Linked DNA regions of Homo sapiens: regions 1 and 2 are each reported to be linked to region 3. Evidence: microRNA targets listed by miRTarBase, many of them from high-throughput screens and not tested one by one. Region 3 holds a microRNA gene; each other region holds the end of a gene's coding sequence.

Region 1 (5,000 bases), not on the chromosome of region 3:
GCGTGTGTCCACATACATGCCCACGCGTGTGCACACACACCCACGTACCCACATGTAGATTTGTACAGAGGTGACAAGAGGCATATTCACTCCTTTGCCTACAGCTCTGCTGCCCCGTATGGTAACCCTTATCCCACATATAGTTAGTAAAACTAATTGCAATTCAGTAAAAGTGGAAACTGCATTCCTCAGTCACACTAACTGCATCTCACATGCTCAACAGCTGCATGTGGTTAGCGGCTACCGCACTGGGCGGTGCAGCTCTAGGACATGTCTGTTGCTGCAGAAAGCCCTGCCCTGCGCCCTCCGTTGCTGTCTGCTCCCCCATGGGCCTTCCACTTGCTCTTCCTCTCACACTCGCTCACTCCTGTGCACCAAGCACACACAGCGCCATGCTCTCACCTAATGGGTGGCCTCTCTAGCTCAGTCTCTCTCTCTTTAGTCTCCCCAGTACCTAAGCACAGACTCTGCCTAGCCCTGCATTGCAACACCTGGCCTCTAGTCTGGAGAGAATAACAGGATGGAAACATGACCACATCCACAATCCTAGGATGAAGGACCGAGGGGAGCTATGTGGATCTGGAGAGCTTTGGAAACTCAGAGGGGCTGAGCTCAGGCTGGGTTGGGCAAGGGAATGGGAAGAGAATGAGACATTTGAGCATGGCCCGGACAGTAGGGTGTTGAGCATGCAGAGAGAAAGGACATCTAGAAGGCCTGGAAGTGGGGAAATGCAGTGCATTTGTGAGAACTGTTGGCCACCCTTTTTGGTTGGTGTGACAGATGTGGGCAGGGGAGGGGACAGTGAGCCTGGGCAGGTGGGTAGTGGCCAGGTAGAGCCTTGGATGCCAGGCTCAGGATGTCCCTGGGTCCCCCACGAGGGCAGATGGGGATGTGGCCTGGACAGCCAGGGTCCTAAAGTCCCAGAGGTCCAAGTGGACAGGGTTTCCTGGGCAGCATGGCAGGCATCACCAAGCAATCAACACATTGATCAAGAGATGGAGCCTGGTGCTGTGGCTCATGTCCGCAATCCCAGCACTTTGAGAGGCTGAGGCAGGTGGATCACTTGAGGCCAGGAGTTCGAGACCAGGCTGGCTAACATGGTAAAACCCTGACTCTACTAAAAATATAAAAATTAGCTGGGCGTGGTAGTGCATGGCTGTCATCCCAGTTACTTGGGAGGCTGAGGCATGAGAATTGCTTGAACCTGGGAGGCGGAGGTTGCAGTGAGCTGAGACTGCGCCACCGCACTCCAGCCTGGGTGACAGAGTGAGACTCTGTCTCAAAAAAAAGAGAGAAAGAGAGATGGATAGGCATCACACAACTTTGGGTAATTTGCATATGAATAAGCCTTCATTTATATGCCATCATTCTTATCCTCTCTACACTGATTCCCTTTCTACACTGTCCTAAGTGTGGTAGAAGTGCTAATGATGAATTATTGAAGGCCATAATGAACGGCCATGAATACTTAATGACATCACGATATTAGTATTGCTGATGGATGGTATCTACAGACTTGTCCATCTCTCTGGAGACCTTAGGGAGGAGTGCGGGCTTTTTGTTCTTTTTGGGTTTAGACCTGAGATGAGGTGAGAGAGGTGACCAGCTGTCGTCTCGCTGTCTCCCTGGCTCCGGGTGCCTGGTTCTCTCTGGACTTCTGACGCCCTGGATTCTCTGTCCCCCGCTGACCACACTCGCTGTCCCCCTTACCTGAGATGGGGGAGCCGAACAGTCACCTTCCCTCCGGGCCTCGCCTTCTCAGGGCCTCTGGGAAGGAGCAGGCAGAAGGTGAAGGGAAAGAGAAGGGACGGAGAAGAGGGGGGAAGAGGAAGCAAGAATTTAAGAAAAAAAAGAAAGAAAGAAAGAAAAAGCTTAAAAAGGAGTAGGCGGGAGGCGGGGGCACGATGGTTCCCCAGACCACCCCAGCCCAGGGGGGTTGTGTTCTGGGGATTCAGGAGGTCGAGGCACCCAGTCCGTGGTGAGCAGGGCCAGGTCTCCTTCCTTCCCAAGAGCACGGTGCGAGTGCCTTCCCCACAGCTCTCCCAGGTGTCTGTCTCCCTCACTCCCCCAGGGCCAGGACAGCGAGCAGGGAGCACGCCTTCCTCCTGGTCCCTCCCAGACCCTCGCCAGGCTCAGCAGACCCCTCTCCTGTTGCGTTGCTCCTTCGGCAGGAGGTCAGCGTGGGTGAGAAGGGAGCAGAGGCCAGATGACCCTTCATGTCAGTTCAAGGAGAGGCCCCCAGGTCCTCCTCACGGGTTCCACTCCCCTCACCCTCCCAGTATCCATGAGCATCCCACCGCCACCAAGTGCAGGGCATCCAGGGGGTGGAGAGTGGATGGGCTTGAAGGGGAGTGGGTATGAGGTTTGGACAACCCCAGATGTGAAGAGTGTGTGTGTGTGTTGTGCACGTGGATTGCCTGTATGGTATTGCAGGGGAGAAGAGGATTTGGAAAAGGTGCAAGGAAATTGCAAGAATAGAAAATGAAAGAGGAAGTAGAAAGGTTTGCGGTATAAGAAGGGTGAGAGAAAGGGGAGTGGGGTTATGGAGGGATCTAGAAGAGAATAGTGGGGAGGGAAAGGGCAGGAATGGAAGGCAAGCCCATCACCCCAAAGCCCCTTCCCCATGTCTACCCCTCCCCCAACTCCAAAGAAGGAAATTAGGAGGCCACTGCGGATTATGTTTGGGTCATTTCCACATGCTTTATTCCAGCAATCAAAATAATTAAAAACATCTCAAATTATTATACACATACAAAATAGGTACAGAGTCTTTTGCTTCCTCCCACCCCTAGGGGGAAAAACTGCTTTGTGCTTTGGGAAGTTGTCTCTGAAACCCGGGGACAGAGGACGCAGGACAGACTAGGAGGGAGCCGGGAGGATGGGCTGCAGCTGTGGAGGAGGGTTTCAGAGGAGAGAGGTCGGAGAGCAGAGGCCTGAGAAGCCAGAGGCAGGTGGAGAGAGGGTGGAAAGTGAGCAGCGGGCTGGGCTGGAGCCGCACACGCTCTCCTCCCATGTTAAATAGCACCTTTAGAAAAATTCACAAGTCCCCATCCACAAAAAAAAAAAAAAAAAAAGAAAAATATCAAGGAATAAAAATAGACTTTGAACAAAAAGGAACATTTGCTGGCCTGGGGGGGCATCTCAATTTCTATAGCACCAGTGATTCCCTCCCCACCCCACCCATCACATAGATGTAGCACCTTTGGTATAAAATGGGGAGCCGCTTCCACCCTGCCCCCATCCCCGCCCCCAGGCAGTTGCCCCGGTGACACATCAAGACAAGAACGAGGTAGTCTTTCAGCAACACAGTTACACAAGGAACAGAACAGTCTCTCCCGCCCAGCCCTGCGGCACAAGGGATTGACACGCGTTCCCCAAATCCGATGTTTCTGCTTTGTCGTGGCCCTTCCTGACTCTCCTCCGAACCCAGTGAGGGGCTGGTGGCTCCCCCGGCATGACCCCCTCAAAAACGAAGGGGAGATGTTGCAAGAGCCATGGGAGCGCCAGATGGCAAGGCTTCTTTGGCAGTCTGAGAACCCCAGGTCCCCCAGGGCCTGGGGGTGCTGGGCGGGCAGGAGCGGGCTGAGGGTGGGGGCCACTTGGGTGTTTGAGCATTGCCTTTGATTGCTGGGCAGACAATACATTGTTTCCTGTGTCTTCTGGGGAGACAGATTTGGGAAGGAGTGGAGGGGAGGCCCCAAGGGGGGTGTGGAGAAAGGAGCAGAAAGGGCAGCATTGGGGTTTCATAAGCCCAACGGGCAGAAAGGGACTTACCCCCGCATGGGTCTTCAAGCAAGTGGACCAAGCTTCCTTTTTTAAAAAGTTATTTATTTATTCTTTTTTTTTTTTTTTTTTTGGTAAGGTTGAATGCACTTTTGGTTTTTGGTCATGTTCGGTTGGTCAAAGATAAAAACTAAGTTTGAGAGATGAATGCAAAGGAAAAAAATATTTTCCAAAGTCCATGTGAAATTGTCTCCCATTTTTTGGCTTTTGAGGGGGTTCAGTTTGGGTTGCTTGTCTGTTTCCGGGTTGGGGGGAAAGTTGGTTGGGTGGGAGGGAGCCAGGTTGGGATGGAGGGAGTTTACAGGAAGCAGACAGGGCCAACGTCGAAGCCGAATTCCTGGTCTGGGGCACCAACGTCCAAGGGGGCCACATCGATGATGGGCAGGCGGGAGGTCTTGGTGGTTTTGTATTCAATCACTGTCTTGCCCCAGGCTCCGGTGTGACTCTGGGGTGGGGCGGAGACAACGGGAGGGGGCATTACCACGTGGGAGTGATGGAGAGAGGGCACTATGGCCTGGCCAAAAAGCCCAAGGCCGGAGAGGTGGGGCCCTGCCTGGGGATTCTGGGCACTCACCGTGCAGCCATCGACAGTGACGCTGTAGGTGAAGCGGCTGTTGCCCTCGGCGCGGATCTCGATCTCGTTGGAGCCCTGGAGGAGCAGGGCCTTCTTGAGGTTGCCAGTCTGCTGGTCCATGTAGGCCACGCTGTTCTTGCAGTGGTAGGTGATGTTCTGGGAGGCCTCGGTGGACATCAGGCGCAGGAAGGTCAGCTGGATGGCCACATCGGCAGGGTCGGAGCCCTGGCCGCCATACTCGAACTGCAGGGGAGGGGAGAGAGGGAAGAGTGAGCCGCTATGCGGGAACCTCTAGTCCTGCCTGGCCTCCCTGTCCAGGGTCCTCAGAGAGCTGCCCAATGCACCGTTATATCGAGAGGAGGCACCACCTGCCCATCGGCAGCCTGTGTCTGAACCACTATCAGGGACCTGAGACCCCTGCCTCCCAGCCCAGCTCTGTCCATCACCCTTAGCAGAGACCTACTCCAGGACTTCATGTCCCTTCTGAGCACTGGGCTAGCCCATCTCCTAACACTGGCTCTGAGGTCCAGCTCACGCACCTGGAATCCATCGGTCATGCTCTCGCCGAACCAGACATGCCTCTTGTCCTTGGGGTTCTTGCTGATGTACCAGTTCTTCTGGGCCACACTGGGCTGAGTGGGGT
Region 2 (5,000 bases), not on the chromosome of region 3:
TGGGAGAATCACTTGAACTTGGGAGGCAGAGGCTGCAGTGAGCTGAGACTGTGCCACTGCACTCCAGCCTGGGCAACAGAGCCAGACCCCATCTCAAAACAAAAACAAAAACAAAAACAAAAACAAAAACAAAAAACAAAAAACAGAAAACAAAAAACCAACCCAGACCTGGAGATGAACAAGAGTTAGCAGGGTTAGCAGGGGATGTGCCTCCAGGTAGCAAGAATGGCAAGTGTGAAAGGTTTGGGGACAAATCCTTGGCCATTTGGAGGCTGAAAGGCCAGTGGGGCAGGAGCATAAAAGCAAGGGGCAGGGGAGGCAGAAGAGGAGGCTGAGGAGGGAGGCAGGGGCCGGACTTCACAGGGCCACATTAGGACTTTGGACTTAAGCCTAAATCCAGTGGGAAGGGGAGTGATGTGATCGGATTTATTTTTACAAAGATCGCTTTGGCATCTGTGTGGAGGACCAGATTACGGGAGAGAATGCAGGGAGAAAGGTATGAAAGCTGACAGTTGCCAAAGGAAGAGATGATGGTGGCATGGCCAAGGTGATGGAGTAAAGTGGAGGAACTGAGGAGGCATTTTTTAAAAAGCATTGAGACAATCAAGGTTTTTCTCACACACTTGCCTTGGTATAGAGGGGCTAAAATGTTGGCTTAGACAAGGCAAACAGTAAATATTTTGGCCATGCTAATCTGTCCCGAGTGTGGGCTGTTGTGTTTTAGGTTAGCTGGGAGCACAGTCCCCTGCCTCAACCAGGGCCACATCTGACCAGAGTCAATTTTATGACTGAAGATTTCCTGACAAAGCTTTTACAACTTCTGCAATCTCTGCTGATGTTTAAAATAATTACTATTAGGAAATAGTAATTATTATAGGAAATTCCTGTTTGCATTTCATCTGAATTCCTCTCACATTACATTTTTTTAATTCTAGAGATAAGGATGCTAAAATAATAAGTCACCTGGGTAGCCAAATATGAATGACGTCATAATGACCGTTCTGAATTGCATCTGTCCCAAAGCCAAAGTGACCTATTCGTTAGCAGCGAAGAAAAAATGGCCGAATATCCTCAGAAGAAGAGCCCAATTAGAGTTGTGCTCACTGCTAAGTTCTTTGCCTTTGCTCCTTAACATGTGGACCTAGCAACAGCACCCAGTAGCTTGTTAGAAATTCAGGACCAAGTTGGAAGCTGCATTTCAACACGGTCCCCAGGCAATTCGTAGGCACTTTAAATTTTGAGAAGCACCATGGTTAGATCACCCTAGGGCCATCTAAAAGTGGGTGGGCAGTGGCAGGTGCCAGATATTTGAAATGCGGTGAGGCACAGCAAGTGGTTAGGAAAACCCAACAACTGGTCCAACAGGACCTGGCTTTTCTCTGGAAGCTTCAAGTTCCCAAGTCACATAGAGTGTTGCAGCCAAACTCGGGGACAATGTGTTTGTTGGCTGCTGGTTCTGTGGCTGGTGAGAGGAGCTGGCTCAACCCTCCTCTGGTGCTGAAATGCTGTCAGGTAGAAACTAGGGCCCGTGGGGACACATGCGGAGGGGCTCCCCCTGGCAGCACCAGAGGCTGAGGGGGGTTGAGCTCTCTTTCCCCCTCCCCTCCATAATGTGGACAGTTTGGTTCTTGTCCTCTTTACCTGGCCGCTAAGAGCCCTCATTCCTTGTAGGTGGTTTGGGTGACTTTCCCGCTTCCTTCTGAATGGAGGCTGATGAGCAAGGGAAAGATGCTTTGGCATCTCAGTACAAAATACTCTTCAGTAGCTTTTGCTACAACAGAACACCGAGCTCCAGGGGTTCTGAAAGCTCTGCTCATACCGCCTGCCTACGGGGTCAGCTCCTGCAGGCCGATGACCCCTGTCACCCCCTGGTCTCGTTCTCACTCTCTACCTGAGGGGTATGCAACGCAGACACCAGACACGGCCTGGCCAAACAAGGACACTTTGTTTTATTACTGCTTTCCTGAGAAGCCTTTCAAGGCACAAAGTCTCCACCAGAATCGAATCACATACCTCCGTCTAACTAGAGCTGGTCCTCCCACATCATCAGACAACTGGATGGAGTTTGTGGGCTGTTTAAAGCATATGGTTTGTAAATACTGTAAAATCAAACATTACTTATGGCTTTTATTTACTGCAGCATTTCACATTACCTAGCACCAAAATAGCTGAGGAGGTCTTCTCTGCCTTTGTTCTTTCTCCTGTTCTTTTCCTTATGCTTCTTTGCTCCCTGCCTTCCGCAGCAGCGGTTTCTCTGCTCTGATTCTTCCTCTCCCCACTGCCCAGCCCTCCTCCTGCACCATCTGCCCACCAACTCCACACCGTTCTCTTCCCTGGCCCCACTCACCCTCTCCCTTTCCTCCCCCTGTGCCTCTCACGCTGCCCCTTGATCCTCCTGGATGTCTTAGCTACCTTTCCCTCTCTCTGCTTTCACTTCCAAAAGCTGCAGGTGCTCCTTACTCACACTCGACTCCCTCCTGCCTCCACCAGGCTATTTTCTTTTCCCTCCCAATACCCACCACAGAGTTCCTTTTTTCCTCTTTCCTCTAAAGGAAACATGAGGATCAGAGAACTGTAGAATCACAGTCACAAGGGACACTGCTTGTGCTACACTGGCAGTCACTTCTGAGTCAGAAAATCTTTCTTCTCCGATCACCTTCAATAACGGCTGCCCCCAACCCCATCCCTCCTTAGAGCAAGAGAGGTTGGGGAAGAGAAAACTTCCAGGCTCCCTCACCAACACTTTCACCCCCTTTCCTGTCTCAGCACACACACAGACACACAGATGCATGCACGCACATGTCCACACATGCAGGAATGCACACATATGCATACACAAGCACACATGTATACACACAGGAGTGCACAAATATGTGCGTGCAAGCACACATGTGCACACCTGCAGGGGTACACACCCATACCCACAAACTCCGAGTGCACTTGGTGCAGAACGGGTTTGCACCCGGCCTCCCCTAAGGCCCTGAGCTTCCTCTCTACTGTCTCCTTCGCCCCTGGCCAGGCTGACCTGTGCTGTGCACCTCCAGAGTGAGCCCTTGGACACATGATTCTAGCGTGATGGGATGGAGAGCGACAGCCATGGTGGGGTTCCTTGCTCCAGGTGCAACTCTTGGGCAGCAGGAGGACAGCAGTGGTCAGACTGAACAGGAAGCTGGTGTCAAAGCCAGCTTCCACCTGGGGTCATGTTTAGTCAATCAATTCATAGTCAGGCTCCTATCATCAAGTGGGCTTCTTTCCATGCCACTGGGCAAGGCATCTTCAAAAGAGAAAATCAAGAGGGAAAATGAACAGAGCCCTGAAGACATACCCTTGTAACCATAAAACAATGACTGTAAAATTCAGCATTCTCAGCTAGAGCTTCTTCAAGCACTTTACGGAATGTAGGATGCTATTTCCTTCATAGCTGGGGAAACAGAGGTTCCACTGAGTAAGCTGCTTGGGGATTGTGGAAAATCCCTCGATTTCCCAGTACTTCGCTCCTCACATTGAAACATTCATTTGAAAGACCCAAGGAATATTAATTTGAACAGAGATGAATGTCTCAGCTAGGTGTTGACTAGGAGGCCAGCCTTGCACAGGCAGGGTCTCTCCAACCCCGTCCTGCCTTCACATCCCCGCTCAGACTCGCTTGGCTGCCCGCAGCACTGGGCTGCACCTTAATTCCTAATGCAACAGTGCCCACCCCTTGGAGAACAGGAGGAGAGCTGCTCTGCAAGCCCTCCAGGTGAGCGGGGCTTGCAGGTCAGCTAGAACGTGCCCCACCAAGTTCAACCCCACCCTGTTGTTCTGTGTCCAGTGCCGAGGTGTGGTCTCTGCTTAGCTGTTCTCCGTGAAAATTCCCAAGACAAGGAGGAAGCAGTGACAGCTGAAGGCCAGGACAAAACTCCATTTCATTTCCCTGCCCCCCTCCCAACTCCCCCACTGCCTTCCACACACCCCTGAGGGGGGCAGAAAAGCAAGTGTCAATATTATTCTCCACCTGAGTTCCCTTTTGCATCAACTAATTACCAGCCCAATTGCCAATAAATTACTAGTATAAAAAGTTGTGTGTGTACACAGGCAGATGTAGATAGATGTATGTATATATAGTCATGGAGTCCAGCCTTTTTTCCTTGCCCTCTTTCTTGTGGGCAGCTCCAGACAAAAAGCTTCTGTCCCCTGAAGAGTTTATCGGGTCATGGGTGCCACGTAGTTGGCAGGGAAGAGGCCCAGCTTGTTGTGCAGGCGGCCGGTCCACCAGGATGGGTTGGAGCTATCCAGGACCTCCACCACCTCCCCGCTGTGGAACCCCAGCTCGTCATCCTCCAGGGCCTCAAAGTCATACAGCGCCCGGGCCCACCGCACTCGCTGTTGGGGGAAGCACAGAAGAGGCTCTGCTGAGCTGTGGGCTGGGCAGGCAGGGGAGGGTCTGCTGGCTCCTCCCACCACATCCAAGTCTTTGAGAGCAACATTCCCTGAAGGCTGACCCCTCTGCAGCTTAAAAAAACTTTTTTTGTAGAGATGGGGTCTTGCTATGTTGCTCAGGCTGGTTTTGAACCCTTGGCCTCAAGAAGTCCTCCTGCCTTGGCCTCCCAAGTAGCTGGAACTACAGGTGTGAGCCACCATGCCCGGCTACCCTGCTGCAATTTAAATCAGATACCTATGCACAGGCCTGAGCAAGAAGTTCCCAGAACGCACCAGCGTCACTCTGGAGACCCAGGACTTTTACCAACAGATGTTATTGTCCAAAGCCCCAATAGACTCCCTGAGAACCACTCTCTCCACATCAATAGGTGGTATTTTTATCTTGAGTGACAAACAGAAGGGCAACATGCCCCAAACAACAGCCCTTGGTGTTAGGGCAATCAAGTCACAAGTCAAGATGGATCACAGGCCAGGCACGGTGGCTCATGCCTGTAATCCCAGCACTGTGGGAGGCTGAGGTAGGAGGATTGCTTGAGCCCAGGAGTTCCAGACCAGCCTGGGCAATATAGCAAGAGCTT
Region 3 (5,000 bases):
CACACCTGACTTATTCCACTATAAATGTTACCCTGTGACGGGAAACTACTGTCCACTGTCCTGCTGGGGAGTGGCCTGGCTGCTCCAACAGCCTGAGGGGAATGAGGGCTGAAGATAGCTGAACTCTAGCTTGGCATGCAGAACACCTCTGTCTGGGACCTAGAGATTTCTTCTCTTCTGGGATTTCAGGGCTTCAAGGTCAGCTGTTGCTTCCATTGTGGTACAAAGACCACACATGGCTTTAGAATTGGACAAGCCTAAATCCCCAGGCCCATGGCTTATTAGCTATGTTATCTGAGGCACTACTACTCCTTTGTACTTTGGCTTCCTAACCTGTATAAAGGGGACAATAGTAATACCTGTCTTGGGAGTTATTTTGAAGATGAGATAATCGTATCAATTGACTGGCACAGTGACTAGCACACAGCAGGTTCTCAGGAAATGGCAGTGGTTTTTATGATGACCATTAGTGATCTATGCTGGGCGAGAGCTCACCAAGGGAACACTATAGCTGTGGTTCTGGGTAAGGCTTACCCTAACAAGGCAGGGGCTGTCAATGCTAGGAAAGGCGAATGGGTGCCAGTGGAGCCCAGGAGGGCCAGCCGAGCCAAAGCACTGCGGCTTTTCCTTGGACTCCCGCTGCTCTCTCCCACCTGCTCTTAGGGGTTCTGGCTTCTCGTGCTTGTTGAATTAGGGATGCCATCCTGCTTCCAGGTGGGTCGAGGAACTAGGAAACTGGAGAAGCCACCCCTATGGACCTCCTGGGGTAGACTATTAATGGCAGGAGGTGGGACATAAAGTGCAGTCCTGGGGAAATGGAGGGGGCTGGGGCCACTCACCTCTTTGCACAAGCCATGGAACAGAAGCGCTTGGAACGCTTGAACTTATAGGCAAAGTCCACCCGGCCACAGAGCTCACACTTGAGTTTGAGGGGAGCACCCTCCTCTTTGGATTCTGAAAAGTATAGAAATGGGTAGGGTGGAGAATGAGAAATTCCTGCAGGACTGTGGCCAGCCCCACCACGGGGCCTCCCTACTCCATCCTGCCTGGTCCTCCTGCTCCCACAGCTGTGACATACAGCAGCATTCTAGCATGGAAAATGCCAGTGGTTCTCACCCCTGGAATGCACTCAAGGGTGTCTGGGGATGCCCCTTGTAGACTTGACATTTTTTTCTTCCACGTGGTCTGAGTCTGAGGCAAAACACAGGTGGGGAAGAATCAGCATCAAATGACTGTGGAAGAAAGCAGGAGCCCCCAGGAAATACTCTGGATGCTGTCACAGCTGCTCCGCTGGCATCATCACACCTTGATCTATGCAGCTGGCTGCTGACCCAGTAAAAGACCTCAGGAGCCCACGCTCCTGCAGCTGTGCAGCTCTGTCAGTGCTTCATGTGGAAAGAGCAGCCTTGCCTGGTCTCTGCTGTGACCTAGAGCTGGCCCCAGTCTCAAGGCAGGGACGAAGGGCAGGACTTGCCTGGGGCCACTCCTACAGTCATGCCTAAAACTTGCCAATGATTCCCACAGGAAAAGCCATTCTTGGGATCCTGTGGTTGGCTGGAGGGGGATTGGGGGAGCAGAGGACACATGGTTCCCGTGATTTCCCCTATCCCTCTTTTTGAGGGAAGGAGGCTGAGGAGGTGCTGGGGGAAATGTTTACAGACTCGCTGGCTCAGGGTTCCTCTGGGGAAACAGAGAGAGGAAGTGTGTGAGGCCTGCCTTTCCAGCCACGCTGGGAGGCCGAGAGATTCAGGGTCTGAGATGCCCACCTTGCAGATAGGGCTCCTCCATCTCCGAGTCAGTGGTGGTGGTGTGATCCTGCTGTGGAAGTTTCTCAGGCAGGAACCCCTGTGCATACTTCTTCTTGAGATTCCCCACCAGCAGGGACGAGCGTCCCACCTAGAGGACAGGTAACACGGAGGCCGTGAGGGTCAGGTGGGAGCGGCTTCCTTGCTATCCATCCTCATCACAATTACACGTATAAAGTATCCAGGCACAGAGGCCAGCCCTCCTCAAACCTTCCCCCATGTCATCATCCAAGTGTGCTGGGCTCAAGGCCCTATTTTGCTGGTTGGCTCACGAGGTAAGATGCTAATGGGCAAAGTACAGGGATGGCTTCTGTCCAGGACCAACGGATGGCTCAGGAGATTAGGAAAATGTCTATTCCAGTAAGAGTCTAAGGGCTGAGATCAGGTTTCCCACAGTGCCAGATCAAGCACCAAGACCCAGTACCCACGCATCTCCAGGCAAGGACAGAGCGGAGTCTGTGTGAGGCTGTACATACGAGAGAGAGACTCAGCACCCATTTTCTGATTTTTTTACTGTTCTCCACCTTACCCCAATGCCTGACCCAAGCCAGAGGTACAGGCCGCCACAGAGTATAGCAGGAAAAAACAGACCCTGGGCCACAGAGCCAATGAACTCTCAGTTGTCAGAACCCCAGAGCAGCTTATTTACGCGTTTAGATCTCCTTTTGTGGCCTGTGTTTAGGCAGCCTGGTAGCCAGTCACGTGGCACCGACTCTAGGGCAATGCTGGGGGTGCTATGCAATCTGCCTCCACCCCATGAGATCAGGTGGTTTCTAGTGTTACTCTAGGAGGCCCAGTCTAACAGGGAAGGGATGTAACAGAGCGAGAGCCACTTCTAGCTAAGGTGTTCCAGGCAGATTTCTTTGCCACTGGCCTTGGACAACCTCCAGTGGGAAAGAAGACAAGAAGCTATGTGTCTTTTGGCATTTTACAGGAGCAGTTCACCCATCTCAGTTAATCAAGCTCCGCGTCTTCTGCAGACTAATCAAACCACTCATGGAACCAAAGAATGAGGAAAAGGCAGATGGTATCCCAGAAAGGTGTCTTCTCCAACAGCCAGATACTTTTCATCAGAACAGAGGCTGGTGTGCCGCTGGCTCTGGGCTCCTCCACACCCACAGGGCAGCACCACTGTCTCCAGTGCACACTGCACAGAAGCAGCTCTGGGTGCTTTGGTCAATAACCCATCTTCGTGGCTCGTGGATATTTCTTGTTAGTCTTAGGCTTCCATCGTGACCTTTCTGAGTGCCCCTCAATCTCATTAACTCCCCTTTCAAGGCTCTGTCCCCAGAAAACAAGCTTCAGGTTGTGACCCTGTTTCCTCACATTCATTTCTGATACACGTATCTGGAGAATTCTGTTCTGTGCAATTCCTTTTGTTCCTAACTGGCCGAAGTTTTGCCATTCAGAGGTTTTGGCATTCAAAACTCAATGAAATCTAATTTCCCAAAACCCATCATCTCTCACCAAATATCCCACAGTGAACTCCCTTTTAACCAAGGGTTCACACATCAACAGGCAGGGACACACCTGAGTTTGTGTGGGAAACTTCTAACCAAGGGTCTTGTCAATTATTCCTGATCACTGACCCCCCTCTTCTGGACCTTGGAAAGATAATCCTAGAAAGAAATGGCTCTATATTCTTTGGGGGAGGAAGTTAGCAAGGAAAGAGCAAATTGTTCACATTTTCAGAAATTTTACATGGAAATGTAAAAATATTCTAAGACACATCCAAAATATACTTAAAAAAAAAAGGGGAAAAGAAGTAGTCCGTACCGGGAAAGGCTCCGCCCCCTCCTGGATCACAAACCCTTCGATAACATGCGTCAGGATTTGGGGTTTCACAATGGCCTGTGGTGGTTTATTCTCACCATTCTGGGGGGCAGTGCCGGCGATGCTGGAGGCAGAGTTTCCGTTCCCTGAGGTCATGCCGGGGCTGCTGAGGTCGGTCAGTGCATGAACAATGCCCTGCCCTGTCTCTGCACGAGAGAGAGTAGGAAAACAAAGCAGGGGAGATCAGAACCAGAGTCCACGCCCAGGGAGGGACAGCAAGGACTCAAACTGCGCCCGGCTTTTACCGTGGGGCCAAGCGACAATGCAAACCAAGCAGTCCCCTCCCCTCAGTGACCCATTTAAAAGTGGCACAGTTTCAATGGACACATCACCAAGTATGAGTATAGTCAGTTCCACAACAACGCATGCAGCTAATCAGCTAGCAGTGTTTCTTCATTTCCCAACCGTGCTATGAACAGTTAACCCGGATAAACAGACGGGAATTCTATCTTTGAGGAGTTAAGACCTTGGTCGATACTGATTTGAACAAATAAGGTTAATACTCAGTTTGAGGGAGAAAAGTATTCAAGGTGACATCTAAAACCAGGACAAGAAGCTGAGCTAGGTATAGGGCTTTGAGTGTGATAAAGAGAAGCTTCTACGAGGTTCCTTAGAGGAGGGATTTTAAGAGCCCTGTGAAATGTCAAAACACTGAACCCCAGAAATTGATGCCAAGGGAATGTGGGTGCTGAACCCCAAGTAAAGGCTATCATGTATATTTGACTATTCAGAGACTGGTCATCTGGGGTCAGTGCATTGAAATATGCAGAAATTCCATTTCTCTGCTAAGAAGGCTGCTAGGCAGAGGCTGAGATTTTCTCTGCTGTTTCTGCTGAGCTGAGTGCTCTCAAAATCAGTCCTCATGCCCAGATGTCAGCTTCTTATCTAATCTGATCCTCACCAAATCATAGATCCTCTGTCTCTCTGTGGACAACCTTTCCTAATTCTCCTTCCCCATGGGCCTGCTAGCCTTCCTCTAAAAGACCTAACAGAGTGCTCCAGAAAGTGAGATTACATGCCTATACACAACCACACGACAGTGAACTTCCTCTCTTCCACTTCAAACAGCATCTCTCATGAGCTGTCTCATTGTCTTAGACGTGCAAGACTTCATCTCCTCACTTCTGTAACTCTCTCCCGCCCCCTTCCCAGGGCTGTTCTCTACCACCATCAACTGCCCCGTGAGCTGAGGCTGCCTTTAACCTGGAACTTCCTAAAAAAGAAAAGAAAAAGCCATTTCTTTATTGCAACAAGTCCATTAATATAAAGCATACCCCAGTGAGGTATGAGTGATATATACTTTAAAAGTGATTTCAGCACACTTGTTAAGTAATCTTTGCATAAAACTTTATATGAAGATGC

Evidence for each region. The annotated mature microRNA hsa-miR-3605-5p reads UGAGGAUGGAUAGCAAGGAAGCC and lies in region 3 at 1,941-1,963, opposite strand. An mRNA with a match to its seed (bases 2 to 7 or 8) in the 3' UTR can be bound and repressed. Matches are read on the target gene's strand: a 7mer-m8 pairs with bases 2 to 8, a 7mer-A1 pairs with bases 2 to 7 and ends in A, and an 8mer does both.
Region 1: miRTarBase lists COL1A1 as a target of hsa-miR-3605-5p. Seed matches in the 3' UTR shown: 7mer-m8 at 2,875-2,881.
Region 2: the mRNA of GRAP2 is a reported target of hsa-miR-3605-5p. Seed matches in the 3' UTR shown: 7mer-A1 at 2,559-2,565.

Annotation. Positions count from the first base shown.
Region 1 is chr17:50,181,421-50,186,420 of GRCh38, forward strand. It overlaps COL1A1 (collagen type I alpha 1 chain), which reads right to left. Exons shown (of 51, transcript NM_000088.4): 49 at 4,897-5,000; 50 at 4,358-4,600; 51 at 2,681-4,228. The coding sequence ends at 4,082. Among named protein-coding and RNA genes, the nearest start is that of COL1A1, 18 kb to the right of the region's middle. RefSeq lists enhancers at 1-42, 502-1,397, 2,973-3,963.
Region 2 is chr22:39,970,270-39,975,269 of GRCh38, reverse strand. It overlaps GRAP2 (GRB2 related adaptor protein 2), which reads right to left. Exons shown (of 8, transcript NM_004810.4): 8 at 1,549-4,365. The coding sequence ends at 4,186. Among named protein-coding and RNA genes, the nearest start is that of TMA7B, 12 kb to the right of the region's middle.
Region 3 is chr1:33,330,509-33,335,508 of GRCh38, forward strand. MIR3605 (microRNA 3605) reads right to left here and starts at 1,984; the gene lies at 1,885-1,984. It overlaps PHC2 (polyhomeotic homolog 2), which reads right to left. Exons shown (of 15, transcript NM_001385109.1): 10 at 3,582-3,784; 11 at 1,767-1,896; 12 at 840-954. RefSeq lists an enhancer at 1-76.